Homo sapiens: one gene and its partner. The protein of the gene in region 1 interacts with the protein of each later gene in a biochemical or structural test. Each region holds a gene or a part of one and is shown on either strand. Other genes may lie near its edges.

Region 1 (16,421 bases):
AGATAATTAGTAAGCCATTTTATCTTGGTTTTAAGGATGCAGCCCAAAGAACATTTTATTGTTGGGAGTCAAAGAGAATGTACGGCTGGAGTACATGTGGTAGAAACTTTAAGCATTGTAACAACATAATAGCTTAATTATTTTAAAACATACCTGAAGTCGAGCATTCATAAGCATGAACTCCTTTTGATTTTTCATGCTTTCATTCATAGATTTTGAAAATATAAACCCCATTTTGACCTAAAATGTAAAAAAAGCAAGGAGACTTATAATAATACACTACATGCATTCTTGTATGCTCCACTTTGAGCTACCTTGGGCTTATGACAAAGTAAAAAAAAAAAGTAAAATTTCTGATCTAGGAACACAGTGTGGATTCTAGTTCTTGCTCCTAACTAGCTGCCTGACCTCAGGCATACTTAACGAGTCTGGCCATCATTTTACTCACCTAACACCAACTGATTGAACTAGATAATTTCCAAAATCCTTCCCTGCTCTATAAGTATATGGCTGTTTCCTGATTTTTCTTCCCACCATAAATCTTGAAGAACTGAATTCTTGAAGAAAAAAACAACTCTCTTTTTTTGTGAGGGGAAGGGTGGATACCATCCATCTTCTTACCTCTGTACAATTAGGCAACAGAACCTTTGCATCTGAGGAGGGATGATTAAGAAGATGCCTTGTGCGTCTTAAGAACATATTTCTTTGTGCTCTTTGCATTTGCGTTTTAAGAAGATTGAGCTCTCCCTCTCCCTCCCCCTCCCCCTCCCTCTTTCTACGGTCTCCCTCTCTTGCGGAGCCTGGACTGTACCGCCATGATCTCGGCTCGCTGCAACCTCCCTGCCTCTGGCTCCGGTGATTCTCCTGTCTCGGCCTGCCGAGTGCCAGGGATTCCAGGCACGCGCCACCACTCCTGACTGGTTTTTGTATTTTTGGTGGAGACGGGGTTTTGCCGTGTTGACTGGGCTGGTCTCGAGCTCCTGGCCTCGGGTGATCTGCCCGCCTCGGCCTCCCGAGGTGCTGGGATTGCAGACGGAGTCTCGCTCATTCAGTGCTCAATGTTGCCCAGGCTGGAGTGCAGTGGCGTGATCTCGGCTGGCTACAACCTCCACCTCCCAGCCGCCTGCCTTGGCCTCCCAAAGTGCTAAGATTACAGCCTCTGCCCGCCCGCCACTCCGTCTAGGAAGTGAGCAGCGTCTCTGCCTGGCCGCCCTGTCTGGGAGGTGAGGAGCATCTCTGCCCGGCCGCCACCCCGTCTAGGAAGTGAGGAGCGTCTCTGCCTGGCCGCCCATCGTCTGGGATGTGAGGAGGGCCTCTGCCCGGCCGCCCCGTCTGGGAGGAAGTGAGGAGCGCCTCTGCCCAGCCACCCCGTCTGGGAAGAAGTGAGGAGCGCTTCTGCCTGGCCGCCCCCTCTGGGAAGTGAGGAGTGCCTCTGCCCGGCCGCCACCCCGTCTAGGAAGTGAGGAGCATCTCTGCCTGGCCGCCCATCGTCTGGGATGTGAGGAGCCCCTCTGCCTGGCCACCCCGTCTAGGAAGTAAGGAGTGTCTCTGCCTGACCGCCCGTTGTCTGGGATGTGAGGAGCATCTCTTCCTGACCGCCCATCGTCTGGGGTGTGAGGAGCATCTCTGCCTGACCGTCCACCGTCTGGGATGTGAGGAGCGCCTCTGCCTGGCTGCCCCATCTGGGAAGTGAGGAGTGCCTCTGCCCGGCCGCCACCCCGTCTAGGAAGCAAGGAGCGACTCTGCCTGACCACCCATCGTCTGGGATGTGAGGAGCGCCTTTGCCCGGCCGCCCCGTCTGGGATGTGAGGAGTGCCTCTGCCCGGCTGCCCCGTCTGGGAAGTGAGGAGCGTCTCTGCCTGAGCGCCCATCGTCTGGGATGTGAGGAGCGCCTTGGCCCGGCCGCCCCGTCTGGGATGTGAGGAGTGCCTCTGCCCGGCTGCCCCGTCTGGGAAGTGAGGAGCGTCTCTGCCTGAGCACCCATCGTCTGGGATGTGAGGAGCGCCTTTGCCCGGCTGCCCCGTCTGGGATGTGAGGAGTGCCTCTGCCTGGCTGCCCCGTCTGGGAAGTGAGGAGCGTCTCTGCCTGAGCGCCCATCATCTGGGATGTGAGGAGCGCCTTTGCCCGGCCGCCCCGTCTGGGATGTGAGGAGCGCCTCTGCCCGGCTGCCCCATCTGGGAATTGAGGAGCACCTCTGCCCGGCCGCCCCGTCTGGGAGGAAGTGAGGAGCGCCTCTGCCCGGCTGCCCCGTCTGGGAGGAAGTGAGGAGCGCCTCTGCCCCGTTGCCCCAAATGGGAAGTGAGGAGCGCCTCTGCCCGGCCGCCCCATCTGGGAAGTGAGGAGTGCCTCTGCCCGGCTGCCACCCTGTCTGGGAGGTCAGGGGCGTCTCTGCCCCGCCGCCACCCCGTCTGGGAAGTGAGGAGCGCCTCTGCCCGGCCGCCACCCCGTCTGGGAGGTGAGGGGTGTCTCTGCCCAGCCATCCCGCCTGGGAAGTGAGGGGCGCCTCTGCCCGGCCGCCCTTCGTCTGGGAGGTGGGGAGCGCCTCTGCCCGGCCGCCCCGTCTGGGAAGTGGGCGCCTCTGCCTGGCCACCCCGTCTGGGAGGTGAGGAGCACCTCTGCCCGGCCGCCCCATTTGGGAGGTGAGGGGCGTCTCTGCCTGGCCGCCACCCCGTCTGGGAAGTGAGGAGCACCTCTGCCCGGCCGCCGCCCCGTCTGGGAGGTGAGGGGTGTCTCTGCCCGGCTGCCCCGCCTGGGAAGTGAGGGGCACCTCTGCCCGGCTGCTCTTTGTCTGGGAGGTGGGGAGCGCCTCTGCCCAGCCGCCCCGTCTGGGAAGTGGGCGCCTCTGCCTGGCCGCCCCCTCTGGGAGGTGGGGAGCGCCTCTGCCTGGCCACCCATCATCTGGGATGTGAGGAGCACCGCTGCCCGGCCGCCACCCCGTCTGGGAAGTGAGGTGTGCCTCTGCCTGGCCGCTCCGTCTGGGAAGTGAGGAGCGCCTCTGCCCGGCCGCCCTGTCTGGGAAGTGAGGTGTGCCTCTGCCTGGCCGCCCCATCTGGGAAGTGTACCCAACAGCTCCGAAGAGACAGCGACCATCGAGAACGGGCCATGATGACGATGGCGGTTTTGTCGAAAAGAAAAGGGGGAAATGTGGGGAAAAGAAAGAGAGATCAGATTGTTACTGTGTCTGTGTAGAAAGAAGTAGACATAGGAGACTCCATTTTGTTCTGTACTAAGAAAAATTCTTCTGCCTTGGGATGCTGTTAATCTATAACCTTACCCCCAACCCCCTGCTCTCTGAAACATGTGCTGTGTCAACTCAGGGTTAAATGGATTAAGGGTGGTGCAAGATGTGCTTTGTTAAACAGATGCTTGAAGACAGCATGCTCGTTAAGAGTCACCACCACTCCCTAATCTCAAGTACCCAGGGACACAAACAGGGCCAAAGGCCGCAGGGACCTCTGCCTAGGAAAACCAGAGACCTTTGTTCTTGTGTTTATCTGCTGACCTTCTCTCCACTATTATCCTATGACCCTGCCACATCCCCCTCTCTAAGAAACACCCAAGAATGATCAATAAATACTAAAAAAAAAAAAAAAAAGAAGAAGATTGAGCTGTCTCAAGGTCAGTAGACCAGTTATTCTTCCTGTCATCCCACCACAATCCCTGTCCCTCTCCTACATGCCCCTTATTTCCATCCACCCACTGCTAACTGCCTTAGCCATCCTCCTCCAGCTTCACTCTCATTCTCTCCAAGATAGCATGTACTAAAGTTCTCAAAAATGGAAAAACATACAGATACTTGAATGTCCTGGAAAATGTACTTTTTAGATGAATGCACAGTAGTGTCTATCTTATGTAAGTTTTTAAGTGGGCTGTCAACTCTACAAGGGACAGAACTCCAATTTTTATTCTTAATCCAACTGGGTGGGTACAGAAGACCTTGAGTTAGTTGGTTGCATTTCAGAATACTGCAAAACTCAGGGGAAAGTTACAACTGCTCTACCCTTCTCAACAATGTTGCTGATACCTTTTCTCTTTAATAGGCTGTTGAGTAGGGTTGTGAACCTCAGGTAAGAATGGCCAGTCTTAATTCATTACAGCCAGGATTCCCAAGTATTCTGTGGGAAGCCCAGCTAATGGGGTTCCAGGTGAGTGGGAGCTGCAAGCAAGACTTCAGTGACTTCCTTGTATTCTGATCAAGGATACACCTGGAGTTTCAGGGCTCTGTGCCAGAGTCAGCTTCAAAGCTGAGCACAGGATACCAAACCACTTACCAGGATGAAGAGGCACAATGCTGAAAAGGCCTGAGGTGGTGAGATTTCCCTCCCCTTCTGCCACTGTGCCACTCGAGCACCCTGTGACCAGAGTTAGAGGCCACTCACTGACAGCAGGGTGATTTGGCAGTTCTTTCCTTTCTCCAAACCCTAACAGTCCCATGCGACTCATCTCTAACAGCAGACCAGAACCTGCCTGAGGTTAGGAGCGAGATATTATCCATCTTGATAGTCTCCATGGTGTCTACTTCCCCTAAATATTTGCACAAAGCATGAGAGATACAAGAAAAACTGTGGCTCAGGCCACTTGCCATTACTTATTTTTCTTCTGAACATAGGAGTGGATGACTAAATTTTTACACCTGCTGCAAACATTTATAAAGAAAACAACTGTACTCTAGTACTATTCCTCCACATACCCTGTATATCACAGAGCTGTGTGCTTTCAAGTGCTCCTGTTTGTAAGGGGTTAGGATCTCCCCTGAAAAGAGAGAGTCCTCATGTCAATCATCTGGGAAAGAAACACTGTCTGGGAAGTTAGTATTTAGATTTACCTCTTTCTGGGCCTTGCTCTCCTGGGTCTGGACTTGTAGTCTGAATGTGTTAGAGGACGCTCCCAGGTGGAAGGGTTAAAGGTGGAAGCCAAGCAGGAAGAAGAGCTTCCTTATGGGAAACCACACCTGAGAATAAATAAATGCATCACACCTTGTAAATTTCACCCTGGAGTTCAGTATTTTCAACATTCTTTCCTTTCCCAACTTCCCCATTCCTGGCAAAGTCATTTCCCAAAGTCTGGGAATATTCCGTAGGGTGTCCAGAACACTTTCAGCTATCTCCTCTTGCTCACAAAATATGTATCAGAAAATAAGCAAAATTGACCTTGCAATAGGGATAACTTTGATTTCACTCACTTGTATAAGTTAAGTCTTTTAAAAATTCTAACACTTTTCACCAGGGGTAAAAAAAAATGTCTTGCTACTTATACAATTTTAAACATCACTGTGTCTCAGAGTGATGTTTTGCAGAGAATGCTGATTTCAATCCCTCTGTCTTCATTTTCCCTTTGATTCCTTCTGAGATCTTGGAAGGGGTCTTTAATGCTTCAGCCCTGCCTCAGGTGAGCTATAGATTACTATGGGAAGGTGTATTTCTGGGGAGGAGAAGTGGTGCCTGCAAGTTCCAGACAACCTTTCTTCCGGTCACCCGTGAGTACCTAGATTTGATTTTACTTGGGGGGACATAAAAAATTAATTGCATGAATTCTGTCATCGGGATTACCACGCTGACTTATTTCCCGATCAGATGACACATTGCCTGAATGTATGACTGATCGTCTCACCACAGTCATTTTCAATATTTGCATCCCATTGAAATTAAGCCACATCCCCTTGCAAATTCCAGCCCAGAGCCCACAGCTTCCGGAGGTTTTCTGTAATTAACACCGCCCTTGCTCCCTGAGGCCAGTTACTGTAATTTAGGTATTCCCCGCAATAGTGTGCTGATTTCTGTTGAGAGCACTGTGCCTGTTTTTCTCAACTCTATTTTAAAGCTACGGAGAGATCCGGAGTCCACGCCAGGCGACAAGAACGCGCTCTAATGGAACGAAGTTGGCAATACCTATCAGCACCAGGGGCAGTGCGAGAGCCAAGAGCCGGCGCTCACGAGGAGCGGGCGCCCAGCGCTGCCTGGCAAGCCCGGAGCCCAGGAGATCGCGCTGACTGACATGGCCGGGCTGACCCTTCTCCCCACCCGCCTGCGGCCGGTGTTCACTCACTGGGCGGCGCTGGTGCCGGGACCAGGCGACCGGTACGCAAACCTCCAGGCCCGGGCTCCTTTCGCCCGCTGCAGGGACCGGGCCTCGCTCCGCCCAGCGTCGGGATTGGCGCCCAGACACAGTAGATGACGCACCTCAGCCAATTCGCGCAGCCCTCAGCTTCTTTAAAGAGCCGGCACTTCCGCCAGAAGCCGGGTGTGTCCTTCCGGGCCAGGCTCAGTGTTACCAGAGGTGGGAGGGGAAGGTCAAAAGAGGCAAATTCAAAGCCGCGGCGACTCAGCTGCCAGATTTTTGAGATGAGGCAGAGGAAGCGGAGTGGAATTCTCAATTAAAGGCCTCTGTCCCCTCATCTGTTAAATTGGCACTATTAAAAAGTCATAAAGATAAGACAGAAACGAGAAAGAAGAGAATTGACTGAAATTACCCATTCTTTTTTGAACAGAGCCGTCTTTCTCCCCTGCTGCTCAGAGAGATGTCGGTCTCGCCTCAACCTCACCAGCAATTTCTATCTTGAATAAGCCACGTCTCTCTCCCAGCCTGAGAGAATGCTTGAATTGTTGGCACTCTGTTCTTTGCTACCAAATGGCTTGGAAAAATAGCATGAACGTCACCAGTCTCTGGCCTTCAGGAAAGTCCCTGCTAACCACCACAGCGGTGGAGAAGGCGTCTAACTTTCTCCAGGCTCAGCGTGTGAGTGCACACCGCCCTGACCTCCTGGGCGCGTCTTGATGCTCTCAACAGCAGCCCTCAGGATTCTGGACTGTGGGTCCCACATTCCAGATACCATTTGTGGAATGGCTGGATGAGAAAATTGCAACAGCACCCTCATTTCCAGTTAAGGGAATGGGCGGGTTACCAGGAGGTTTGACACTCTTGAAGGGAGGTTAACAACTGATGCAAGAAGTAAGGAATCGTGTTTGAGTGCACAGACTCTAGCATAAACACACCTACCTTCAATTTCTAGCTCTGTCACTGTCACTCTGAATTTATCACCTCTGCAACAGGACTAAAGCCATCTAATTTATTGGATTGTGAGGACTAAAAGATAATATATGTGGGCATTTAGCACAGTGTCGGGCACATAGTTCGCCTTCCGTAACCAGTAGTAACCAGTAACAGCGGGGAGCTGTTAGTAACTATAGGGCTGAGGGGTGGGGGAAGGAAGCAGTTACTAAAACCAGGCGAGAGCGAGAGCGGTAGCTGTGGCTGTACGAGAGAGTAACCAACTGGAACCGTGTCGTTCAGTAGAGGAAAGCAAGCAATGCCAACTTTTCACCAAGTAAGGTGAGATTCTATAGTTGTAGCCAGTGCTGAGACGTCAGCCCAAAGCAGGGACAGAGTGGAGAAGACCCACCTCTCTGTTCTCCCAGCTCTGATATCCAGCTGGGGTCTTCCGCTGGCTGGATCCACCAGGAAGCCAGAAGACAGTGGAGCTAGGTCTGTGTAGTCTGTAGAGGTCAGCCTACTAGGCACAATGCCTGGAGGGAGAAATAGAAAATATCCAGCACACCATTTCTTTTTTTTGTTTGTTTTTACACTTTAAGCTCTAGGGTACATGTGCACAACGTGCAGGTTTGTTACCTATGTATACATGTGCCGTGTTGGTGTGTTGCACCCATTAAGTTGTCATTTACATTAGGTGTATCTCCTAATGCTATCCCTCCCCCCTCCCCCCACCCCACAACAGGCCCCGGTGTGTGATGTCCCCCTTCCTGTGTCCAAGTGTTCTCATTGTTCAATTCCCACCTATGAGTGAGAACATGCGGTGTTTGGTTTTTTGTCCTTGCGATAGTTTGCTGAGAATGATGGTTTCCAGCTTCATCCACGTCCCTACAAAGGACATGAACTCATCATTTTTTATGGCTGCATAGTATTCCAGCACACCATTTCTACAACCTTGGGTTTATTGTGTTTGGAAGCCTAGATCCAAAGGAAGGAATGCTGCCACTAGAAGACCCCGTCACTGAATTGAATTGAATTTCAATTCATTGATTCGAAAGCTGAAACTGCCCTCTGGTCACTTTGATTCCTCACAGTGACAGAATGGTATGATTCATCCCAAATACCAAAAGGAAATTGGGTTACATCTATATATTGAGGGCAAGAAGAACTATGCATGACACCTGGAGATTCACTGGGCACTTCTTAATACTGCCGTGTGCCATAATAATGATTATCAGATAACTGAAGTAATGCAGAAATTTCAGATCATGAAGAAATTAAAGTGTTGAAGCATACCAGATAAAAAAATCCTGATCTACCTAGGTGTTGGCATAGGGCAGGGGAAACATACATAAGTAAATGAGTAGGAAGCTATGATTATTAATTTTAGCCTTGCAACAAGCTCTAGAGGCAGGAATTATAGTAGCTCTCCATTTAAAATGTTAATTACTTCTTCCCTGACTCTCTTTTCCTATTACCCTGCATAAAGAGTAGTGGTGGAGATAAATATTACAATTTAGTTTCTGGGTGAGAATGTGCCTGAACTGACATCCCCTCAAGGCAATATGGCAGCTGATGAGGCTTGTTAAGGAAAATCAAAGCTGGACAATAGCTGTAGCAGTAAAAATAGATTTTTATTCAGCAACTTTTGAAATAGGGGGAAAGAGACCTTGGTAAAGAACTGGGCTCAATTCTGAATACAGTAAGGATAAGTGGGGATTTATAGCCGAGGAGCAGGTTGTGTGGATGGGGGTGGGGTCCGTGGATGGAAAATTACTAAGAAGAGACAGCAAGGGTAGGGGAAATCCTTGCTAAACTGACCTAACAGGATTCTTGCTAAAGGTAGGCCAGGGTAAGCAGACATCACCTGGGGGCTGGTGGGGGTAAGGAATTTGATCAGATATTGAGAGTGGTCAAACATTCAGGGTGGGAAGATCCTCTCTAAACTGACTTAGCAGGATTCTTGCCAACACTGATTCTGCAAGGATGAACACTGCAGCCCAAGGTCAATATCTAATCAAGGAGATGGCTTAGAGGAGCCTGACTAAAGTTTGGTCGAGGAGAAATCTTGTCAGACTCTGTCATTCTCATATGTAAGGGATGAGCTGCTCTTCATCTGAGCAAAGGAAAAGAATAAATTCTGGGTGACAAAACAATTAGACTGTCTAGGTTTTCTGTTTGCCTTCCATCATATTCATTCTCCTCACTTCCCTGCCCTGTTCTATACCCCAAAGCTGACCTCTTTGGACGGCACCACCTGGGCTCTCCTCAGCTGGTTTCCATTTGAGTTTGGACAGCGGGAGGCATTCAGGGAGATGGGAGGCAGGAGGAAAAAGACATCAGGGTATATTTTCTCTGTTCTTTCTCTGTTTGGGGCTGAGTATCTGGTGGTGGTTGTGTTTCTCCACAATTGCAGCTCTTGGCAAGCAGTCCCTTCTCCATGGCTCCAGCTCCATGGGCTCTGGAAACACTTTTCTCCTTTGCTATGTAGCCTAGAGAGAGCGCAGTCTTCCTGCTGTTGCTAGACTCTGGATGACTCAACTGGATGGTTCTCTTAGTCATACTCCTTTAAGTAGTGTCTTCACTAATATCTCTTTAATCAAACCAACTGAGTAAAATTCTGATTCCTGATGGATACATGTTAAACCGAAAACACACATTATAAATTTTCTTGTATGTATGATGTTTTTCATAATTTTAAAACATAAGTGAAAAAAGTGACCATAGAAAAATATGCCCAGGAAATTGAAAAAAAAAGTCTTGGTATAGATATTGGACACATTTTATAAAATGTGGAGTAAGAGGGTTAAAGGAAATTTATTTCAGAATCAAATGGCATATAACTTTAACTGGTATGTGAATTATTTTCAGTTGTATGAATTTGTGAATATATATGTGTACATTTTTATGCATATATATAAATATGTGTTTTATATCATCTTGCATTATAACATAAGGATTTTTATGTTGCTACATTGCATTTATATTTACCATTTTTAACAGCTAAAGGATTTTCAATAAGTGTGTATGTAACAACTTCCATTGCTGGATATTTCTCAGTATATATATGTATATATACATATGTGTGTATACATATATATATACATATGTGTATATATACATATGTATGTATATGTATATGTACGTATGTATGTGTATATATACATACATGTGTGTATACGCATATATACATATGTGTATATATACACGTATATACATGTGTGTATATATACACGTATATACGTGTGTATATACACACGTATATACATGTGTGTATATACATGTGTGTATATACACACGTATATACGTGTGTATATACACACGTATATACATGTGTGTATATACACACGTATATACATGTGTGTATATATACGTGTGTATATATATAAACACATATATATATGCACATGCATATGTATACACTGAGTTAAGTAGTATAAATATTTTAGAGAAAATTGATGTAAAATCCTCAACTCATTTGATGCTCCCTATCCCAGGACAGTAAAAATTGCCCAATATTTCCTTGGACCTCCATAAAGAAGCAGTTTTTCAAAAAATAAAGTGTTTGGAAGTTTAAGATGTGCCTAGCAGTGTCTCCTTTTAACAGAGATGCTTTCACAAGGATTTGAATTTCCCCATTGAGCTGGGAACCAGGTTTAGCCAAGAACTTCGGTCTGTGAAGGACTGCAAATAGTTGCACAGTGTGGGGCTGAGGCTAGAACCTCCTTAATATTAAACCATTCTGGGATGGTGCTCCCCAAATTCTGGATTTTAACCTTCACTCCAATCCTGGGGCACCTCTGTAGCTTGGGCATGACCTGGACACAAGCTTTGTGTAAGCCTTCTTTGGACTTCATCCATTCCTCAACGGTGACACCATGTGGCAGTGTAATATAATGGCATCAGTGGACTCAGATCCTGTTCTCTCCCTACCTAGAGATTTTTAAGATTAAGATATGTAATTCACAACCATAAAATGTACCACCTTAAATTGTACAATTTATTGGTTTTTCATACATTCAAAAAGTTGTACAACCACCACCATTATCTAATTCCATAACATTTTCTTCACCCTAGAAAGAAACCTCATACCTATTAGCAGCCACTCCCCAAACTCCCCATTCTCCCCATTCCCCCAGTTTCTGGGGACCCCTAACCTACTTTTTGTTTTTATAGATTTGCCTATTCTGGACATTTTATATAAATGGAAGCCTACAATCTATGGCCTTTTGTGTCTGGCTCCTTTTACTTAGTATGATCAAGGTTCATCCAAGTTGTAGCATGTACCAGTACTTCATTTCTTTTTATGTCTGATTAATGTTCCAATGTATGGATATACCACATTTTGTTTATCCATTCAAAATTGTGGGGCATTTGGATTGTTCCCATTTTTTTTGCTGTCATAAATAATGCTGCTAAGTTTTTGTATGAACGTATGTTTTCAATTCTCTTGGGTATATATGTAAAAGCAGAATTGCTGGGTCATATGGTAACTCTGCATTTAACTTTTTGGAGTTGAACAAATACACCATGCCAGCAGTGAATAAGGATGCTGATTTCACTATACCTTTGCACAATAGTTAAGAGCATAAACACTGGAACCAGATGTCTGGGTTCGAATCCCAGCTGTGCTATCTCCTAGCTGTGTCGTTTAGACAAGTTACTAAAGCTCTGTGCCTCAGTGTCCACATCTCTAAAATAGAGGCAATAATAGTACCTTCCTTACAGGATTGTTGTAAGATTTAAATGAGCTAATATGTGTAAATCACAAAAATAGGGTCTGACATTTTTTAAATGGTATATGTTTTACCATTGCTGCTATTTTAATCTTTATTATAATTATTGTGTTTTGTTTTGTTAATTTGATAGCTTTAAAAGGTAATGATACAGTTTATTGATGTTTGTTATGAAAAGGAGTAATTGGAGAAGATAAAAATGTAAGGGGTAATAAAGTCAAGGAAGGTTTTTTGAGCTGAAAATGATTATATTTCAGAGTGTAACCTGAATAAAACTGAGGCTTCACATGGCTCAGTCCATGCATGTAATAGCATTCTAAGAAAACATAAACTGAATGAAAACGTAAACTGTGAAGCATGAAGAATAATGAGGGTCTTCACCTTATGCTTTCTGAAGGAGTCCCCGCAAATGCTTCACACAGCATATTGAACAAGAAACTCCTAAAATCTTCTCTAGATATTTCTCTCTTTCCTATTTTTTCCCACTGACAGTAGCACCTTATATCTATCCTCCTCAACTGCGAGGTCACTACAGCACTATACTAAGCCCCTGTTAACTTCCTTCTCTTGAAACCCATGCAACTCACATGATCCTATTCTCAGCCTGTGAATCTCAGCCTCCTGCAATCCTGTGAAATTCAACTTGGTCTCCTACTCTGAATGTGTATAAAAATAACAGAGAACAGTTCCTGAACTCTGATGAGTAAAATGATCTACCTTATTACATGTGGTATTATAATAAATAAATATACATTAATTTCTTTCCCCATTTTCCAGCACACAGCTCCTAAAAGACTTGTAACTTCCTGAGTGATAGGTATGCTAGGTAAATTTTTTGTTCTATGTGACCTTCGACTCCAGTTCTTGACACAGAGCTCCTGATCCCTTGGAATTTCCATAGTGATAGGAGCATCTTTCATTCTCCTGAAGTAACTTGGTGGGCTTCTGGATGGGAGCTGGTCACAAGAATGACCAAGCCATGATTAGAAGCTTGGAACTTTCACCTCCTACCTCATCCTGTGAAAAGGGGAGAGGGGCTGAAGATTGAGGTAACAATTGCTGATGTGTACATGATGAAGTCCCCATAAAAATCCCTAAATGAGGGGATTTGGAGAGGTTCTGGAGGTGCTGAACGTGGAGGTGCTTGGAGGGTGGCCTATCCAGTTCATCTCCAGAGTTCACACACTCACCTAAGTGCTGATGCCCACCTGATGGCATTTCTCAGCCTCCGAGGCTTTCCTTCTTTGTACTTAGTCAAAAGAATGCTCTAATCCAGTCTATCATTGATGGGCATTTGGGTTGGTTCCAAGTCTTTGCTATTGTGAATAGTGCCGCAACAAACATACGTGTGCATGTGTCTTTATAGTAGCATGATTTATAATCCTTTGGGTATATACCCAGTAATGAGATCGCTGGGTCAAATGGTATTTCTAGTTCTAGATCCTTGAGGAATTACCACACTGTCTTCCACAATGCTTGAACTAGTTTACAGTCCCACCAACAGTGTAAAAGTGTTCCTATTTCTCCACATCCTCTCCAGCACCTGTTGTTTCCTGACTTTTTAATGATCGCCATTCTAACTGGTGTGAGATGGTATCTCATTGTGGTTTTGATTTGCATTTGTCTGATGGCCAGTGATGATGAGCATTTTTTCATGTGTCTGTTGGCTACATAAATGTCCTCTTTTGAGAAATGTCTGTTCATATCCTTCGCCCACTTTGTGATGGGATTGTTTTTCTCTTGTAAATTTGTTTGAGTTCTTTGTAGATTCTGGATATTAGCCCTTTGTCAGATGAGTAGATAGATTAAGGAAATATGGCACATATACACCATGGAATACTATGCAGCCATAAAAAAGGATGAGTTCATGTTCTTTGTAAGGACATGGATGAAGCTGGAAACCATCATTCTCAGCAAACTATTGCAAAAACAAAAAACCAAACACCGCGTGTTCTCACTCATAGGTGGGAATTGAATAATGAGAACACTTGGACACATGGTGGGGAACATCACACACTGGAACCTGTCGTGGGGTTGGGGGAGGGGGGAGGGAAAGCATTAGGAGATATACCTAATGTAAATGACGAGTTAATGGGTGCAGCACACCAACATGGCACATGTATACATATGTAACAAACCTGTACGTTGTGCACATGCACCCTAGAACTTAAAGTATAATAAAAAAAAAGAATTCTCTAATCCATGGAATAAGTGTTGAATAATGAAATTCTGATATTGTGTTTAATGATATACTGCACTATTCAGAATATTTGTACTTACCTTCGAGTCTCTCTTCTAAAAGATGCCAAACCCCCTTACACGAAGTAGAAAACGTCAAATATCTAAATATTGTATCTTAATAATGTTCAAACATTAAATGTTTCAAATATTCCAATGTTTAGAATCATAAAAAAAAAACATAAGAATTGTTTTAAAAAAATGCTCTAAACTTAACCCACAGCCCTTCTTGTGAATTTCTCCAAAATAACTGGAGCCTGGTTAATAGCAAGCCTCAGGAGCATGGCTTTGAAATACTGTCAACATACTGCCACCAATTTCTCCATTTCCAGAAAAGACTGTAATTTTTTCTTTAGAAATCATGATTTTCTTGATTGGTTTAGACTGGTTTCCAGTAGTTCACTTACCAGGAAAGTTTCTGTTTTGTTTTTAGACTTCCTTAATTTAGAGAATGCACATAATATTGAAACTGGCTATAGTATCCTACTCTGGAAAAGCATATTAAATACATACAAATATATATTTAATGTATATAAATACAAATATATATGTAATGTATATAAATATATACAAATATATGTGTGTGTGAGTATGTATCTTCCTTGATTTCCTTTTATCCATTACCACTAATATCCCTCAATAAGTCCTACTGGTTCTACTTCCAAATTATATTTTGAACATGCTCTACAGAAACAGCTCCTAAAGATTTTCCAGCCTCCATGAATGTAAGTCCCCTCCATATTCCATTCTTCGTACCACAGCTAGAGTGGTATTTTTAGAACATTCATCAGGCAACTACCCTGCTCTAAGCCATCTGGTGGCTTTTCATTGCAAGTAGAATGCAACCTCTCCCCTAGTCCTCAAGGCTCTTCATGATATGATTTGACCCTCCCATCCCTCTTCCTCACTCTCTACCCACAATTCTCTTCTTTTCATCCTTGGAACTTGCCAAGCTTGTTCCACCCGTATAGTCTTTGTACCTGTCTCTTCCCATGGCCAAATATGCTCTTTTGGCAGATCTTTCCATGGTTATCTTCATGATTCATTTCTCAGATATCACCTCTTACACATTTCCTGACCACCATAACTAAAGGAACCTCACACCTGTGCACTATACCATATTGCTCTGACTTGTCTTCTTTTTTCTTGTATAGGACTTTTCGGTATCTGAAATTTTTATTTATTAATTTCTGTTTGGAACATATCTCTCTCAGAGCAGAAAGGTCTTGCTGTCCTTTCAAGGAAATGGTGGGGAAAAGAAAAATTCTCATTCTTTTATGATGAGCCTACAAAAATAAATGGGTTAAATGGGTTCTTGATCCAGTTCACCTTAAGTGTGGTTACCAAAGGAAATGATTCACAAGGTGACTATTTCATTTGTGTGACACTCACTTATGTTATTAGTTCTAGGATATTAAATCAAGAAATATTTTCTAGGATCCCCTGAAAGAGTATCTCTCAATTGTAAACTTTATCTTTAGTGGCATTTTGTTGATTTATTGAGATTCCCTAGATTTAAAATATTTACCACAGAGTGTTCCCCAACTCCCACAGCATTTATCCAGGCCATAACTACTTATGTCTGGATTTATGAACTTATTGTGGGTGGGGGAAATTGTTGGAGGTCTCATCTTTGTTTTAAAGTACCTGTGGCATGGGGTCTGCCCTTTGAAGGCAAGAGCTCTTCACCTGCCCAGCTCTTCCCCAGCTTAGGACAGGAAGGAGAGAGACACAGTGTGAGCGAGAGAAGCATCTGATTGTGAGTGTCAGATGAGGACAGCTGCTACTCTCTGGTCACCCATACATGTTAATTACCCCTGTCATTTAAACCATTGTTTTGTGTAACTAGAACAAAGTATTCTTTCCACGAAGTCTGTTTGACACGAGACACATATAGGATGTGAGTCTATGACAAGGGTAGGGGCAACAAATGTGAGGGGTTGGATGGAAACAGAGGAAGAGAAATGAGCATTGCATAGGGCAGTGGTTTAAAACCCTACATGATCAAAAATAGAACCTGGAGACAAATCTTGATATTGTCTTTATACATAATAAAATGCATTTTAAAATATTCGATGCAAACAAAGCAGTTTGTCATGTCTTTTGTTTTGAGTCTCTTTAGTATATGCTGCTTTTGAAGATCAAGAACATTTACTGGAAATTGCTCCTTCACCAGGAATTTGCTCACATCTCTTCAGGTCCACTTATAAGATCTTGAAATCAGTCCTCCTGAGATCAGTACAAACGAGGATCATCTCTCCTGCTTTAGAAGCAAAAGTGGCAAGCAGGGTAGACAGAGGCAGAAGGAAGGATGGTACTGATAAATCAGCCAAATTAGATGGAAGAAAGCGAATTACAGCTGTACTTGCAAAGAACTCTTGGCTCATTTTTTCCCTTAAATATTAAATCACTAGTTTTCAAAACTTCAAATGTGAACATGACTCACCTGAGGACAATGTT
Region 2 (16,708 bases), on another chromosome or scaffold:
ATTCCTGAGATCAAGGGATCCACTGCTTTGGCCTCCCAAAGTGCTGGGATTACAGGCATGAGCCGCTGCCTCGGCCCAACATGTTGCAAACTTAATCCCTCACGAAACAGTGTTGGGAGATGGGGACTTTTGGGAATTTAGGCCGATTAATGCTGTTTTAAAGGGAACTTGTGGGAGTGGGTTCAGGCTCTTTCACTGTCCTGCTGTGTGAAGACACAATGTTCATCCTCTCCTACCCTCTGCCTTCTGCCATGTGAGGACACTGTAATAATTGGCACCTTGATCGGGGGCTTTGAAGCCTTCAGAACTGTGAGATGATATATTTCTGTCCTGTATGGGTTACCCAGGCTGTCATCTGGGTAATCCATCAAAGACTGTGACACTTTGTTACCGCAGCACAAGTGGGCTGAGACATATGGCGTGATTTCTCTTCCCACCCCTCTACTGACTGTCATCGCCAAACTCAGTGAGCATTTTTTAGTCCTTATCTTTCTAAAAGGACATCTTGATAGAGCGGGGACTGGAGCTCAGACAGTGCTGGTGATTAGGGTTGGGGTGTCTCCCCAGTTGATTTACAGTTGAGGCTTGGACACTGTTTTAAACTTGGGAGGAGTCTCCTAACCATCTAAACACAACCCTGATTCACCTGGTGGGCCAGAGCAGTCTGCCTGGAAGAAAAATACTGAGAAGCCAGCACTCTCATGACTATTGAGGTGCAGGGATATAAAATCTTGTACAAATTGCGATGGCTCTGGGCCAAGATCAATTTGTTAGAAACAGCCAGGCTTCCTGAGAGAATGTTCCATTAAGGGGAAAAGGAGTTTGGCTGGGCTTGACCAGGCAGTTCTCTCCCTTGGGGTCTCTCGTGAGGTTACTGTCAGATGGTGGTACAGCCACAGAAGTGGCTCCATACCACATGGCTGGCTGTGCCAAGCACTTAGCGGTCTCCCCCAACACCGTGATGTCGGGTTGGAGGGACTACTGGTTTGAGATAGAAAGTGGGACGAATGCTAAAACTCCATTTTAACCCTGCCACCACAGCACCAAAAAGCACATCTTTCAGCATGCTTTGTGGAAGAAGGATTGCATGTTTATGGCAATTAAAGATTGCAACACTTTTGATTCCCATAAAACTGTGTCTGGTTACACCTCTGACTGAACACAAGGGGGGGCTATCCTCTGAAATAGCAGAAACCTAACTTTCTGTGTGCAATGACAGCCAGAGCTTATTCCTCAGGTACCACCTGCCATAAATATACAAGTCCCTTTACCTAACAAAGACACAGTGATATTGGGGGTTCAGGCCACCACTAGTGGAGGGGGAGGAGACTAACCTTTGGCTCAACCTTCAGTGGAAGCAGATGTGCTTGAAGCTATTTGGGCAACAGAGTTCAAGGATTTGACCTGTGTCAACATGGGAGAGGGAAAGATTATAGCGGGACACTTTTGGCAAGCTCTGGAAGGAGACGAATTATGGAACATGCGCAAATAGAGACCGATGCACAGAAAAGCTAATAACATTCAGGCTCAGGGCTCCTTCCTTGCATGAGTCCCATGGCAGATTGTATTTTCCAAGATGGCAGCCACAAGACTCCAGCCACATGTACTCTTCTTACAGGATGAGGCCAATAGTCCTCCCATGGAAAGGTGGGGTCTATATGTCCTTCCCTAGAATCTGGGGAGACTTGTGACTCTCATGCAGATGATGCTGGAGTATTTCCAGGCTAGACTGTAAAGGAGAAATAACTTCTGCCTGATTCTGTTGGAAGCCAGTTGCAGGCTTCTAGGAAGCCCAGACACATGGAGAAGTTCTGAGTGTTTTGGCCGATAGTCACAGATGAGATTCCAGCAACAGCTGGGATCACCCATGAGATGTGCGTGAGGAAGGCTTTGAGATGGTTTCAGCCCTAGCCACCACTGACCTAAGAGACCACAAGAAAGAGAATCACCTGGCCAAACCCAGCAGACCTTCAGAATTCAGAAATAAAATAATTCGTCTTATTTTAAGCCACTGTGTTTTGGTTTGATTCATCCCATAGCAAAAGACAACTTCAACAGGCCCTTTCTGAGGCTCTGGAGGGGCCCTGGCAATGTATCCATTTGGTCATTTGCTTTTGTCAAAAGCAGACATTTTAGCTGTAATTGGCTAAAATTCTGATCTCTTTCTGCCCTCATGTTGGGTGGTGGTGGAGTGGATGTGGGCATTTTGAGGATCCAGCAAAAGAAGAATTGAGTTGAGTCATTGAGTTTGGGTTCCATGGGATTTATTTATGTGGTATGGAGTCATTTCTGTGTATGTTATTGCTAGCTGTCCCTGTGTAAAACAGATTTCAGAATAGTCTTCACCTCCCTTGTGCTGACTTACCTAGAGGTGTAATGTAAATATGCAAGACCATAGATTACATCACGATTGTGTCACAAGACATGTGCGTTTGCAGGAACATGGATGGAGCTGGAGGCCATTATTCTTAGCAAACTAACACAGGAACAGAAAACCAAATATCGCATGTTCTCACTTATAAGTAGGAGCTAAATGATGAGAACACATGGACACGTCGAGGGGAACAACACACACTGGGGCCTATCAGAGGTTGGAGGATGGGAAGAGAGAGAGCGTCAGGAAAAATAACTAATGAGTACTAGGTTTAATACCTGGGTGATGAAATAATCTGCACAACAAACCCCCATGACACATGTTTACCTATGTAACAACCCTGCACTTTTATCCCTGAACTTAAAATAAAAGTTGAATAAGAAAAATAGAAATGTACAAAGCTAGAAAAGAGTGTAGCTCATCCCATCTGGGAATTAAACCAAATCTTACAGCTCATACATAAAAATAGTTTGATAAAGATTTTCCTAAGTGTGCCAAGAATCCTGAAAACTAATCTTCCATTATCGATCATGAGCTATGAAGCCAGAAGAAAAATTTAAATCTATCAATAATAAAATACTAGAGCCAAAATAGTTTATTATTCTCTTCTCTCATAGAATATGATATTACAACATTATTGAAGAGGCAATCAAAGCATACACAGGCAAAAATGTTGGTAAAGGAGTATTACAGCAATAGGTCAGGAATTTGTTTAATTAAAATTGCTATTTTACTGAGTTTTATATATATTTAGTGGTAGCAGTAGCCAGAGTAGACTTTGCTGGAGTCTGGGCCATTGAGATTGGTATTATTAAGGTTATGTTGGCCTCATTTGCTCTTACCTTCTGGCATACACAGGATACATCTCACTTGATTTCTCACAAGTCTTTGGTACCCATGACCACTCCCACCTTTTTACAATTTTCACTTTTGCTGGCTTCTCTGGACTCACGCTGTCAATTTTCCCCTCTGGCTAACTGTTCTCAGTCATCTCTACAGAATTCTCTCCTTCTGGGTCTTTATGTTGTTGAGGACTTTATCCTAGGGCTTCTTTTTCTCTCTCTGAGCAAGCTTGTCCACCCCCATTGCTTCAATCCCACCTATCTGCTGACAACTGCTGATTCCACATCTCCAGCTCAGACCTCTTTCCTAGGCTCTACACCAGGAATTGGCAAACTTTTTCTGTAAAGCGATGATAACAAATATTTTATCAGCTTGCTGCTCATTGTACTGTCTCTGTCACATCTGCTCAACTCTGCTAAGGTAGTGCAAATATAGCCACAGAAAATGGTAAAAGAATGGGTGTGGCCATGTTCCAATAAACTTGATTTATAAAAATAAGCCTGCTTCATGGGCTATAATTTGCCAACTCCTGTTCTAAACCAGAATATTCAACTCCCTTCTGGAAATTTCCACTTGGGTTTTCTCAAGTTCCTAAACATAACATTGTCCCCAGGCAATTTCATCTTATTCCCTCCTATGTGTTCCTTCTTAATGAATGATCCACTATCCACCAGATGTCCAAGACAGAAATTCAGGCAGCATACTTGATTTCATTCCCCACATTCAGTCAGTCACAAAATCATGTCAATTCTACTTTCTCAACATCCCCCTAATCCATTCTTTTTTCTCTTTCTCCACTGCCTTCTTTCACCCCCTCTCATCTCTCACCTCCTATGACCTCCTCACTACACTGCAATCAGAGAGATCAAGCCACCCTTGGATTTTAAAAGCCTTCAGTAACAGTAGTCCCTGCCTTTCTTTGGCTGAAGTCTAAACTTCTTGAAACAGAGTGAGAAGCCTGCACAATTGGACCATTTCCCCATGTTAGCCAAATTCCTCTCATCTGCCTGCTCCTCCCGCCTCTGGGACCCTGCACATATATTTCTTCTGCTTAAAGAATGTGTAGCAGGTGAAGCAACTATCTGAGGCCAGTATCCCATGGGCAGTAAGAAGAATTTACCAAGACAGTTGTAGATAAAGAAAGGCAGATTTATTAAAGAAAGCATGAAAATATGTTGCAAGGCAGCAAGGGGCAGGCCAGCAAGAGAGGAGCTGAATGCCAAGAGACAAAGGCTTGCTGGGGGTTTTATAGGATGTTGCTTGTGCTGCGTGCTGAAGAGGGCTTAGTGCAGTACTGATAACACCAAGGTTGCAGTGGGATAACCTGCATTTTTCTATCAGCTGAGGGCCTGGTGATAGCTGGGCACAGGAAGATTGTGAGTTATTTGTGCAGGAGGGCTATGGTCCTGGACCATGAAGAAAGGCAAACTTATAGCTTATCTGCTTTCTCTTTCTTTTTTCCTCAGTGTCACCAGCCTGATTCCTTTTGCCTAATTAGGACTTCACAGAATTATTCTCCTTTCTCATCCTTCCAGCTGTCTTCTAAGTCTCAACTTGGATGTCACTTCCTCTGGGAAATGTCTCCTCACCTCTCAAGACTGTCTCTCTGTGCACCACTACAGCAAATGGGACCTGGGCCACTTCACTTTTACAATTCCAGTTTACAGACCTGCATTGCCCCAACCCCGTTAGACCAAAGACTCCCTGAGGGCAAAGATGGCCTCTTATTTACTCTTGATTCCCTAGCACCCAGCACAGCACTAAGCATTGTACCCACTGAAAGAACATCTGAAGGATGAGCGTTTATAGCAAAAGTGGTTTCCACTGACGTTCCCTTCTCTCTTCCCCAACTTTGGATTGAGGAGCCCAGGAGCTGGTCAGGTGGCAAGATAAGATGAGAACGGAGAAGTCATTACTTGGGGCCTCTGTTTTGCTGGTGTTTTGCTGGTGTGTGGAGATGGTGGGTTTCCCTTGAATACCTGGGAGGCAGGAGCAGGCATGAACTACTCCAGCCTCTGGGTTCTGGATCCACATGGGGTGCTGCTGCTCTCTGGCACCCATCAGTCCTTAACCATCTGGTCTCCAGCCAGGGAAGGAGCGTGGTGGTGGAGAAGCCTCTCTGTCCCACCCACTCATCCCAGGAGCTCACGAGAATCAGCCAAAGTCCGAGTTCTGCACCCTGAGTTAGGAACTCTATAACTTTAGACTTTCCCTGAGCTTTGGGAGTTCTCTTAACTAGTGTGAAAGCAGTTACATCATCCTGGGTCCTCCTAAAATAGACACATGTATCCAAATATAGGCACATGTATTGCAAACATAACATGTATGTATATATGTAAATATATACATATAATTTTTGTTTTGAATTAAGTATAAACACAACAAGTTACAAATATAGTACTGAGAGGTCCTTGTATGGCCCCGCCTCCCTCAGGCAGTATCTTACATAACTATAGTTCATGATTACAACTGGAAAGTTGCCATTGGCACCACATCAGAAACTAGTCTGCAGACCTTGCTCAGATTTCACCAGGTTTTTTGTGCACTCATTTGCTTTCCTGAAAATATTTTAATGTTTTTCTACATGACTTATCTCCCCGACATACTGTGAGATAAGGTTTTTTTTTCTCCGAATAAGCTTAGAGAACAATGAATGTGAGAGGTGGGAAGGATGATTTGGTGCATCTCTGTTTTATCCATGGTGAGTCTGGACCTCAGAGCAGAAGGACCCTCGTCTCTCCTCTGGGGAGTCCTGGTGCCAACTCAGTGCAGGCTGCTAAGTTATCCGGGTCTGACTGTCTTCTTCTCTGCTAAAATTTGTCTTAAGCATGTAACACAGCCATGCTTATTAATGATGAGGAGACAGCCAATGAAAATTAATTTTTTCAAAGATGAATAGATATCTAGATTTTTTCAAGCACAACTCATTTAAGAAAATATCACCTCACTGAGCCCCAAATGAGTTAGGTCTCACTTAGAAAGTGTCCCCTAGTGCCAGGTAAAGTGCCTCATATTTGCAATCCCAGCACTTCTGGAGACGGAGATAGGAGGATCTCATGAGCCCAGGAGTTCAAGACCAGCCTGGGTAACATGGCAAAACCCTGTCTCTACAGAAAATACAAAAAAAAAAAAAATAGCTGGGCGTGGTGGCGTGCACCTGTGGTCCCAGCTACTCTGGAGTCTGAGGTGGGAGAATCGCTTGAATCCAGGAGGTTAAGGCTACAGTGAGCTGTGTTTGCACCACCGCACTCCAGCCTGGGTGACAGAGCCAGCCTCTGTTTCCAAAAAAAAAAAAGAAAGAAAGGAAAAGAAAATGCCCCCGAGTTGATTACATTTTAACCACTGTGCTAACTTGAGAGATAGTCTGCTATCTCTTTACAGGACATGAGGGCTGATAATCACCTCATTGCATGGTCCTGGGGACTGATGAACAAAGGCTAACATGTGGAAAAGGGCAACTAAAGAAAGAAGAGCCACCTCCAGGTTAATTAGTACAAGTCTCCTCGCTGGTATGCCCTAATACACTAAAACAGCAGTAAAAACAATCTGCACATTGGCATCGAAGGCACAGATAAACTTGCCGAGGACCCTTACCACGGCAGAGGGATGCTTTATATGAGTCCTTAGTAGATTAATTAAGTTCTTGCTAGTTCCATTTGGAAATGATGCTGTCCTCTTGGGGCTATGCAGAGAAGTTCATGTTGATGAAATGAGCTGTCCTAGAATGGCAGTTCCCGGGCAGCAGAGCCTGGGCTCAAGGAAGGTTGAAAGAAGGGGTGGCGTGGAGCTGCCAGGTGCAAATGTCAGGCCAGCAATGCAGTCCAGCTTGCATGGACGTGCTTCGCCTAGGAAGTTGTGACTTGGCTGCATTTTCCACTTCAGGTGAGATGGAAGGTTGAACTCTACCTCACCTCCTGGTGAGGTTGATGTTTCCTGGTGTTTATAACTTTCTTTGTAAATACTTGAAAGGAATTTACCATTTTAATGCTGGAAGAGACGTCTATTCCTTCTTAAGAGGACCTGAGTGGATCTTGATTGCAGGCCTTATGCTGGGCAGAGCTAAGGAGAATTCAATTTGTCTCCAATCTTATTTGAATGTTCTTTTTTTTTTTTTTTTTTTTTTTTTTTTTGAGACAGAGTCTTGCTCTCTCACCCAGGCTGGAGTGCAATGGCACGATCTCGGCTCACTGCAACCTCTGCCTGCTGGGTTCAAGCAATTCTCCCACCTCAGCCTCCCCAGTATCTGGGACGACAGGAGCATGCCACCATGCCCTGCTAATTTTTGGTATTTTTAGTAGAGATGGGGTTTCACCATGCTGGCCAGGCTGGTCTCAAACTCCTGACCTCGTGATCCACCTGCCTTGGCCTCCCAAAGTACTGGGATTACAGGCATGAGCCACCGCGCCCAGCCTATTTGAACGTTCCTATGCCTGCTACAAGTGCAGCAGCAGAATCTCCACACATCTTGCGTGCGAAAGTTTCCTGTAGTTCCTTTAGCATAGAGAGGCTGGGGAAGGTTAGAGACTGACTTGTACTCTTTAGACATATAGTTGATCATTGAACAACACACGTCTGAACTGTTACACACAGATTTTTTTCAATAAATGTGTTAGAAAATGTTTTGGAGTTTTGCAACAATTTGAAAAAACTCAAAGACAAACCATCCAGCTAGAAATATCAACAAAAATAGAAAAAGTTAAGTATGTCATGAATGCATAAAATATATGTAGATACCTAGTCTATTTTATTCTTTACTACCATAAAATATAACAAAACTATTGCAAAAGTTAAAATTTAGTAAAAATTGTGTACACACTCACAGATCGTATATGGTGCTATTCTCAGTTGAGAGAAGTGTATACAAACATCAAGATGCAGTATTAAATTGTAACTGCATAAATTTAACCGTAGTGCATACCACACTATGGTAATAATTTCATATCCTCCTCCTGTTGCTGTTGCAATGAGCAAAGGTGTTGCGAGTATCCACTTAAAACGTTCTGTGATACTCAACATTCCATCATGAGCAGTTCATCCCCAGTGAATTGCGCATCACAGTAAAAAGTGCTCTCTCCCTGTTCGCATGTATTTTTCGTCCTGTTTCGTGCTGTACTGTAAACCTTGAATAACACCATGGGATCCAATATGAAGTGGCACTAGTGATGCTGGAAGTGCTCCCAAGAAGCAGAGAAAAGTCATGACATTTGACATTACAAGAAAAACTGGATTTGCTTGATATGTAACAGAGACTGAGGTCTGTAGCTGGGGTTGCTTCCATTTCAGACAGATGATTCATCTTGTAAACAGGTGGTGTAAACTTACTGTATGGAAAAATACATAACAGTACCACAGATGTATTTTCTCCTTACGAACATTTCCTTTTCTCTAGCTTACTTTATTGTAAGAATACAGTATATCATACATATAACATACAAAATACATGTTATTAACTGTTGCTGGTCAACAGCAGGCTGTTAGTAGTTAAGTTTTTGAGAGTCAGAGTTATACCTGGATTTTCTACTGTGTATGGTCAGTGTGCCAACCCCTGAAATTGATCAAGGGTCAACTGTAATCCTAAAAGAATCTAATACAATATTGTAAACAGTAAGTGGTCAATAAATAAGGAATTGAACTAATAAGAATACATAAATCCCAGAATATGTGCAACCTGATCATAGTACACAGAGATCTCTCTATATATCTCTTTTCTTAGTTCATGCTGTTCTTTCAGGTAGAAAGCGCCTTATTTTGAATTAGTTGTCTTTAGAGCAAAAATCCCTCCAAGAGTGCTGTGTGGTTTCCTATGCACAACCTGGAATAGTCCATTGCTTCATGCCTACCCTGGACATGAAGGGCCATGCCGCAGCGGAAGTCTCTATGCACCCACCCCCGTCTATACCTGAGCAACACATTCCTCTTTGCTGCTCTCTTACAGGCTACAGAGTGCGGTGGCGCCAGCACAGAGCTCTGCTCAACGTCCCTCTGTGCTTTCACGATGCTGATGGATTATGAAGGTAGGGAAGAATGTACAGCCAGGAGGCCATTAGGAGGGCAACTAATTTATAAAATCACATTTGTAGAATTTAATGCATCCAACAACTACCAGGGGAAAGGTGGGCAAAAGCTATACCAACACCACCCAAGTCAAAACCAAAACAACAGGAAAAGAAAATTATGTGGATGTAGAATTTCTGATAACATCATTCCCAAGGTGCCTTATCCAAGAGGAACTGCTACAATAATATTTTAAGTGGAAATAAATACATGCTGGAAGCATTATATATTAGTAGAGTATTTTTTTTTCCCAGAGTACTTTCTCAAGCACATCAACATGAGCCCCCTAAGAGACATTTCACATTAAAAATAAAATGTCTGCCCACTGCTGGTTTCTCAATCTGCCTCCACCTTCTGTCCCCTTTAATGAACTGGGCCATGAGGTGAGTCAGAGAGGATAAAGGGAGTGGTAAGAATTTGAGGAGAGAAGAGAGTGAGGCTAAAATAGGAAATCAGGAAAAGCGATTCGGTCCCCCTGTCCCTCACATGGGGCCACCCTCTTGTTGCCCAGTGTGGCTTCTTCTTGAGGGTTCTGCATGGTTCCTCAATCCCAGGGAATTCCGCAGGACATTCCACCCAAGACCATTGGGCTCCCACCTCTACTCTTTTGCCAGTTAATGAATAGGCAGGAATTTCACTGCCTGGAAAGAGGAACAATGCTTTCTGGTCCTTATTTCACATCTAAAATAGAGAGGTCAATTGATTTATTCCTAAATATCTTTGAACACTAAAATAGAAGTTTTACAGCATATATACTACCTGGTTGCTCTAGACTTAAGCCAGGGAAAAGTACAGATTCAACATTTAAAATTGAGATAGACGCTTTCCACTTAATGCTACCAGTCTTGCTTTATTTCATGAGAATGAGAATATAATAATATGGCATACGTTCATTTGGGGGAAAGATTGATGTCTTATAACATAATTTATAATTACAGAAAACATGTGAGTTCACTGGGAATAAATAAATTTTGAAGATAATAAGATACTTTCACTTATGTCGTAATTTCTATGTCATTTGGTGTAGGATGTAGAGATATTAACGTTTACACCTAACTTAAGTTTGTCATCTAAGACCTGAAGGGGTTTTGTCTATCAGCTGCACCCCTGGGTAGAGACACAACCTTGGGGAAGGCCTCAGCCCCATCCCTCGTACAGCAGGAATGAGAACAGCCCTGCCTGTTGGGAAGCTTGAGGGAGGCTATGGACGTGCAGCGCTTGGCAGAGGGTCTCGTCATGGAAGGTTCCAGCAAATGTGAGATACTTTTATGATTTCATTTTCTCCAAAAGAAAGGGAATAAGAGAAGAGGGGAGGAAATAAGACTAATTGCGAGAGATAAAGTACAAGGGTGAGGGAAGGAATAAGGAGACATGACGGCAGCGTGGAGCAGCCGAGGGGGGAGATTGCTTTCACCACTTCCCAGCATCTATTGCAGATTCCACCCTCAAACATGTTGTAAGGACTCTTTATTCAAGGTAATGTTTGAACCCTGCTGAGCCAGTGGCATGGGTCTCTGAGAGAATCATTAACTTAATTTGACTATCTGGTTTGTGGATGCGTTTACTCTCATGTAAGTCAACAACATCCTGGGATTGGGACCCACTTTCTGGGCACTGCTGGCCAGTCCCAAAATGGAACATAAGGAAGTGGTTCTTCTACTTCTTTTATTTCTGAAATCAGGTAAGACATAGTTTTTTTAAATTATAAGAATTATTTTTTCTCCCACAATGTAGTAAAAATACATATGCCATGGCTTTATGTGCAATTCATTTAATTTTTGATTCATGAAACTTCCAGTTGAAAATCTTGTATAAGATTGAGGAATTCTTCAAGAAATAAGTTTAAGTTTCCTGTGAAGATTGTCAGGGTGCTGGAATGAATGGGCAGAGAAAATAATGGGTGATTTTTCAAATCTAAATGAGTGCACCCACATAATGGCCAGTCTAATTGAAAAAGAGCCAATGTAGCTAATTATGCAAAGGACGGCTAAGCTCTTTGCCTGGTTCTCAGTTTGACTAATTTATATCATCTCTGTTACGGTGTCATGCTCCCCTCACTTGCAAGTTAAAACAGTGAAATATCTCTTTGAATATATTCCGTTCTCTCACCAGTTCATGGTGGCGGCAGGGTCGGGGACTCAGCATTTCTCCCTTTGTTATGGCCTGAGGAAGGCTTTCCATCAGTATACGTTTGCCTCTTATCCCCGGAAAAATCACACGCATCCATTTGCCAGATGCTGTGTGCAGATAGTGATCAACAAATACTCAGTTGCTTGGGTTAGGTCCCTACATTTTTACACATACATACATACCTGTGTGTGAATGTGAGTGTGAGTGTGTATCCTTTACAAATACTAGCTTATTTAGCTCGTGGTATAGGTAGGGTAGCATATTCATCCTCATTTTATAAACAAAGAAATCAGACTTAGGAATATCATGTTATTTGCTCAGTGACCAAATTCTCAGATCTGGGAAATAAAGAAAACTGGATTTAAGCCAGGTTTCCCAGAAGGAATCTAGGGCTCTTCTCACTTTTCAGCTTTGTTTAAGCCTTTGAAAGAATATTCTAAACATGTCCTAGTACTTCTTTTTCTTTAAAAAAAAAAAAGCTTTATTGAGATATAATTAACATATAGAATTCACCCATTTAGGCATACAATCCAATGGATTTCAAGATATTGAGAGTTGTGCAGCCACCATCAGAATAAATTTTAAAACTATTCATACCCCCAAAAACGCACTCCACTCTCCTTAGCTGTTACCCCCAATCTGCAGCTTCTGGCAACCACTAATCTACTTTCTGTATTTATATCTTTGCCATTTTGAACATTTCATACAAACGGAATCATACGATTTGCTAGTAGTTCTTCATGTAAATAATGTACGCTTGAAATTCAATCTATAAATTACCAGATAAAATTTTACAAGTTGCACTTTAGAGTCAAATACATTTGAATTTAGTGGAAGCCATTCAAGGAGCTATCAAAGAAAATACAGAGCAGGAGAAAATTAAAGAAATTTTTGTAAGAAATTGGTGTATGTTGGGGGGTATGAATATTATATTTCAATGCATGGAAACTAGGACATAGATCACTATGAACTTATTCAGTGGGCTACACCCAAAGGCTAGATCAAACTTCTCTGCCACAGGATTAACATATGTTTTAACCCACCTGGTGGGCACATTCTCTCATAAGCTCTTTTGGAAAGCCAGGTTTTCTGTGGATGTATCATCTTTCCAGTGTGCTGCAATGCCCGGGGAGAGGGAAAAGTTTCTTTTACAGCCATGCTTAGTGGGAAGTGGAGAAACATCTTCCATTTCACAAATTAAGTCTTTTACACATGCAAATATGCATACACATTCACACACCACAGTGAGGAAGAAATTCTCACACCATTAATAAAATACATTTGCATCAGTAGCAATATACATCTGCATTTTGCCTATAATATAAATGTATTTTTCCACTAAAAGATTTGTTTGATGTTTCCTTGCCAGCAAATAAGCCCTATCAAATCCTATTGCCATATGAGTCCTAGAGGTGAATAAGAGAAGAAAAAATGGGGGAAAATTATTTCAAACTGAAAAGAGAAAAGTTTGATTCTGTTTTGGGATATTTCCTAGGGACATGAGCTGGGGAGGGGATCTCAGCAGCGATGCGCTATGAAGCATAGTAACATAACACAGAGAACTTAATTGAAGGGGGAAATAAATGGAAGTTTTCTTTTTTTGAATATCAGTTGTAGCCTGCTCTGCTATACTTCAAAAAAACTCTTCAGAAAGTTTAACTGAACTCACTGTAGGACACACTTTGTGGATTTATTGTGTGTTTTGAAGTCACACTGTGAGCTATATAGAATTAACCAAAACACAACTCTTCTTGAAAATGAGAGTTCAAGTTGGCAGAAAGTGCGGGGTAAAGACATGGATATGGGCCTAAAGCATCTATTTCTTTGTGATCTTTTGATATATCTCTCAAGTGCTTTTTAGTGGATTAGCTTTAGAATGCATCAGCCAACTCCTGCTCAATAATCCATTTTTCCAGCCCGGAATGTCTTAAATTGAGGAAGGACAAAGTCCCAGAGGTGGGGAGCAGGGGGACTTTGGCCGAGGACTTTGCATGAATCGATGAGCATGCATCCACCTCCCTGTCCTGCCCCTTGTGCTCTGTGTACCCTCAGGAGGTCAGGACAGGCCTTTCTGAGAATGAAAATCTGTTCATTTGCTTTCCTACTGGATACTTGTCATCAGCATACAAACCAATGCGCTCTGCAGTGTGTCATCTTTCAGAACCTCCCCTGACCGCATGTTCCCTGGAGGGCTCGCTGTCTTCAGAGCCAGGCTTGTCTCCTGCTGCAGCCTCCACTGCTCTCCTAGTCACTCTGTAACCCACCCCCTCTGCCTGCGGCCCCCACCACGCCCCTCAAAGTGGTCAAGGTTGTCCTGTTGTCTAATTCCATGGAGCTTGCCTGTCTTCATTTTATTAGCCTCTTTTGGCCTCTCACCCTTGTGCAAATCACTAGCATTCTGTGCCAAGGACGGAGCTGGCATCTCCAGGCTTGGAATAGAGCTACCAAAGCTCAGCCAGATGTCTGGAAGAGCCTCAGGACAAGGGGACACCCTGTAGCCTTGTGGTGGGAGCACAGCTGAGGCCCCCTTGGCCACCCTCTGCCACGACCAGGCAGAAAGCAGCTTTCGGACAGATTCGTTGTCTCAGATTTGATCTCAAAGAAAAACCAAGACCAGTATTTGTCCCAGGTCCTGCTTTTTTACAATTTCCTCCGAAATCCAGATACCTGTCAACACCTTGGAAAAACTGACTTCTCCCCAATTAGTAGTGTTGTGTGACTGTCATAAGCCCAGTACAAAAATGGCCTTCTTTGTTGGGGAGCTTCTTACCCTCCAGTGTTTTGCCCAATTTTTGTCCAAGGTGGCAACATAATTTAGTTCAGTTCTTGTTTATTTCCACCATCATCTATGCACCAAAATTTATGTTTCTCAAGGAGGGACCATTCAGAGGATGCTTCCCACCGGTTCAAGTGACAGTGCCAGAACCAAAGCGCATATTGTAGGAAATCAAACAATGGCCTCCAAGTTCCATTTCTACCCAGGGATGAACAAATCAACATCAATCTTGGTAACACAACTGCCACTGATGGTGCCTTACTCTTCTCTCATGACATGGCACAATCAATAGCAAACATAAAATTTGTTCTTGTTTAAGGATTTATATCCACTAATATGGTAACATAGTAGTGGTTCCATAGTTCTAACCTGTTTGTCAATCCAGTTAATCTTTTACTATCTTGCAATCTGCTAATGAAACTGTTTTTCTTTGTTTTATAATTTCAACTTTTAGAGTCAGGGGTACATGTGCAGGTGTGTTACATAACTAAATTGCGTGACACTGAGCTTTGGGGTACAAATGATCCCATCACCCAGGTAGTGAGCTAAATACCTACTAAATAGGTAGTTTTTCAGCCCTTGCCTTGCTCCCTCTCTCCCTTCTCTGGTAGTCCCCAGTGTCTTTAGTTGCCATCTTTATTTATGTCCAAATGCCCGACTGTGTGTTCTTAACTAAACATTTTGATTCATAGCTACCCATTCTACTTCCAGTAAACAGAAAGTTTTATTTGGTTAATGCTAACCAAATAGATTAAAAGGAAGTCATGACAATTAGACATTGACATTGATTTACTGACCATTTATTCCACTTGGATCTCCCACCTCTAGGTCAAGGAGAGCCTCTGGATGACTATGTGAATACCCAGGGGGCTTCACTGTTCAGTGTCACTAAGAAGCAGCTGGGAGCAGGAAGTATAGAAGAATGTGCAGCAAAATGTGAGGAGGACGAAGAATTCACCTGCAGGTATTTCCATTGTCGTTGCACCTACGCAGGAATCTGTAATTCAGATGGCAAGTAATTTACTCACAAATTTATTAATGATTTAAGAGGAAAGAGAAATTTATGGAGCCAGAGTTTGGAACTATATTTGCTCACAGTATGTGAAGCCATACTAACAGCTTCTTGTTAAGGTTTATTGGAGTCTTTGTTAGAAAAATACCCTCAAAGGAAGTTATTTGTTTTTACACCGGACACAAACATTAGCAGTTATTGTTCTGAGCTCCAGTTTTCAACATCATCATCAGTAAATGTTTGTTGAGGATCAGGTGAATGAAAGTGTCCTAGATAGATCTGAGCAATGACTTATAGCTACAAGATCCAGTGCCTGCCCTTTAGTATTTAAGGTGTAGTCAAAGAAACTGGATATAATGTTAAAAAAAAAAAAAAGACAGCCCAAGTGAGGTACAGGCATAATCAATGCATGCTCTACCCAGATCCAGAAGAAAGAACAGTGCCTAAGGTTGAGGCAGCTAGAGAAGGCTCAGGGAGGAGGTGGGAACTGAGCTGGGTTTGGAGTTGAGAGAGCTCTTGACAAGCACCAGGAAGGCAGGGGAAGATGCGGCCCTGCACCTTCTGAGGGGGACCATTAAGAGATGAAGTTGACTAAAGCAGAGACTTTGTGTAGGTGACGGGCTTGGGAAGGTAGCTATGGAATCCAGACTGAGCACCCATAGCAGGACCACGGGATGGAGATGGGAGGGGTCAGGGGCCAGGGTGGGGTGGAATGTGGAGCAGAGGTTCAGGGGAACTGATCAGAGTTGGGAGGTCATGGAGACGGACTATCTTGGCGAATGGGTTCAAAGCAACCAGAGTTGCTTCTTTCCAACCCAAAAACAAAAATTAAGAAGATGAGTGAAGAAGAAGTAAAGCAGTTGAAACAGGAAGAAAGGGAAAATTATGAGGGAGGGAAGGTAAGGGCAGATAAGATTTGCTGCCACGTTGGTGTATTTTGTTCAGTACTTCATCGATGCCATGCCCAAATAACTGAAAGAGGCAGCAATTCTGAGCTCTCTGGTCCCTCAAGATATTCAATGATCTTTAGCATGTCTCACTTATTAATAAACATTTGTTTTCTTTAAATAAAGAAAAATACTTATTGGATTTCCTGCTTCGTTCTGCAGGGCATTCCAATATCACAGTAAAGAGCAACAATGTGTGATAATGGCTGAAAACAGGAAGTCCTCCATAATCATTAGGATGAGAGATGTAGTTTTATTTGAAAAGAAAGGTGAGTACATTTTCTTCCTCCTCCTCCTACTGTCCTCCCCATCCTCCCACTCTTCCTCTTTCTCTATTCTATCTTTAATTTATAAGACCAGAGGAGGAAGGCACTATCGTGTTATAAAACTGAATTCTGAGTTAGGACAGGATTTGATTACTAACTAACCATGTCAGCTTGAGTGTATTACTTCACCTCTTAGATTTAATTTTTTTTGTTCAAAAGATGAAAGGATTAGATTTACAAAATCACTTCTACCTCTATGACCCTGAAAATAAGATTTTTAAAATATTATTTTATATTTAACAAGGA

Evidence for each region.
Region 2: the proteins of PLGRKT (region 1) and PLG form a complex in vitro, tested with the Homo sapiens proteins (one study listed by IntAct).

Annotation. Positions count from the first base shown.
Region 1 is NC_000009.12:5,431,744-5,448,164, forward strand, and holds the start of PLGRKT (plasminogen receptor (KT)), read right to left. Parts: upstream 6,183-16,421; 5' UTR 6,046-6,182; exon of another isoform or gene 5,889-6,045; intron 4,952-5,888; 5' UTR 4,826-4,951; intron 241-4,825; 5' UTR 235-240; coding exon 154-234; intron 1-153. UniProt on the Homo sapiens protein: Receptor for plasminogen. Regulates urokinase plasminogen activator-dependent and stimulates tissue-type plasminogen activator-dependent cell surface plasminogen activation.
Region 2 is NC_000006.12:160,691,402-160,708,109, forward strand, and holds the start of PLG (plasminogen isoform 1 precursor), read left to right. Parts: upstream 1-10,842; 5' UTR 10,843-10,903; coding exon 10,904-10,952; intron 10,953-15,005; coding exon 15,006-15,141; intron 15,142-16,298; coding exon 16,299-16,405; intron 16,406-16,708. UniProt on the Homo sapiens protein: Plasmin dissolves the fibrin of blood clots and acts as a proteolytic factor in a variety of other processes including embryonic development, tissue remodeling, tumor invasion, and inflammation. In ovulation, weakens the walls of the Graafian follicle.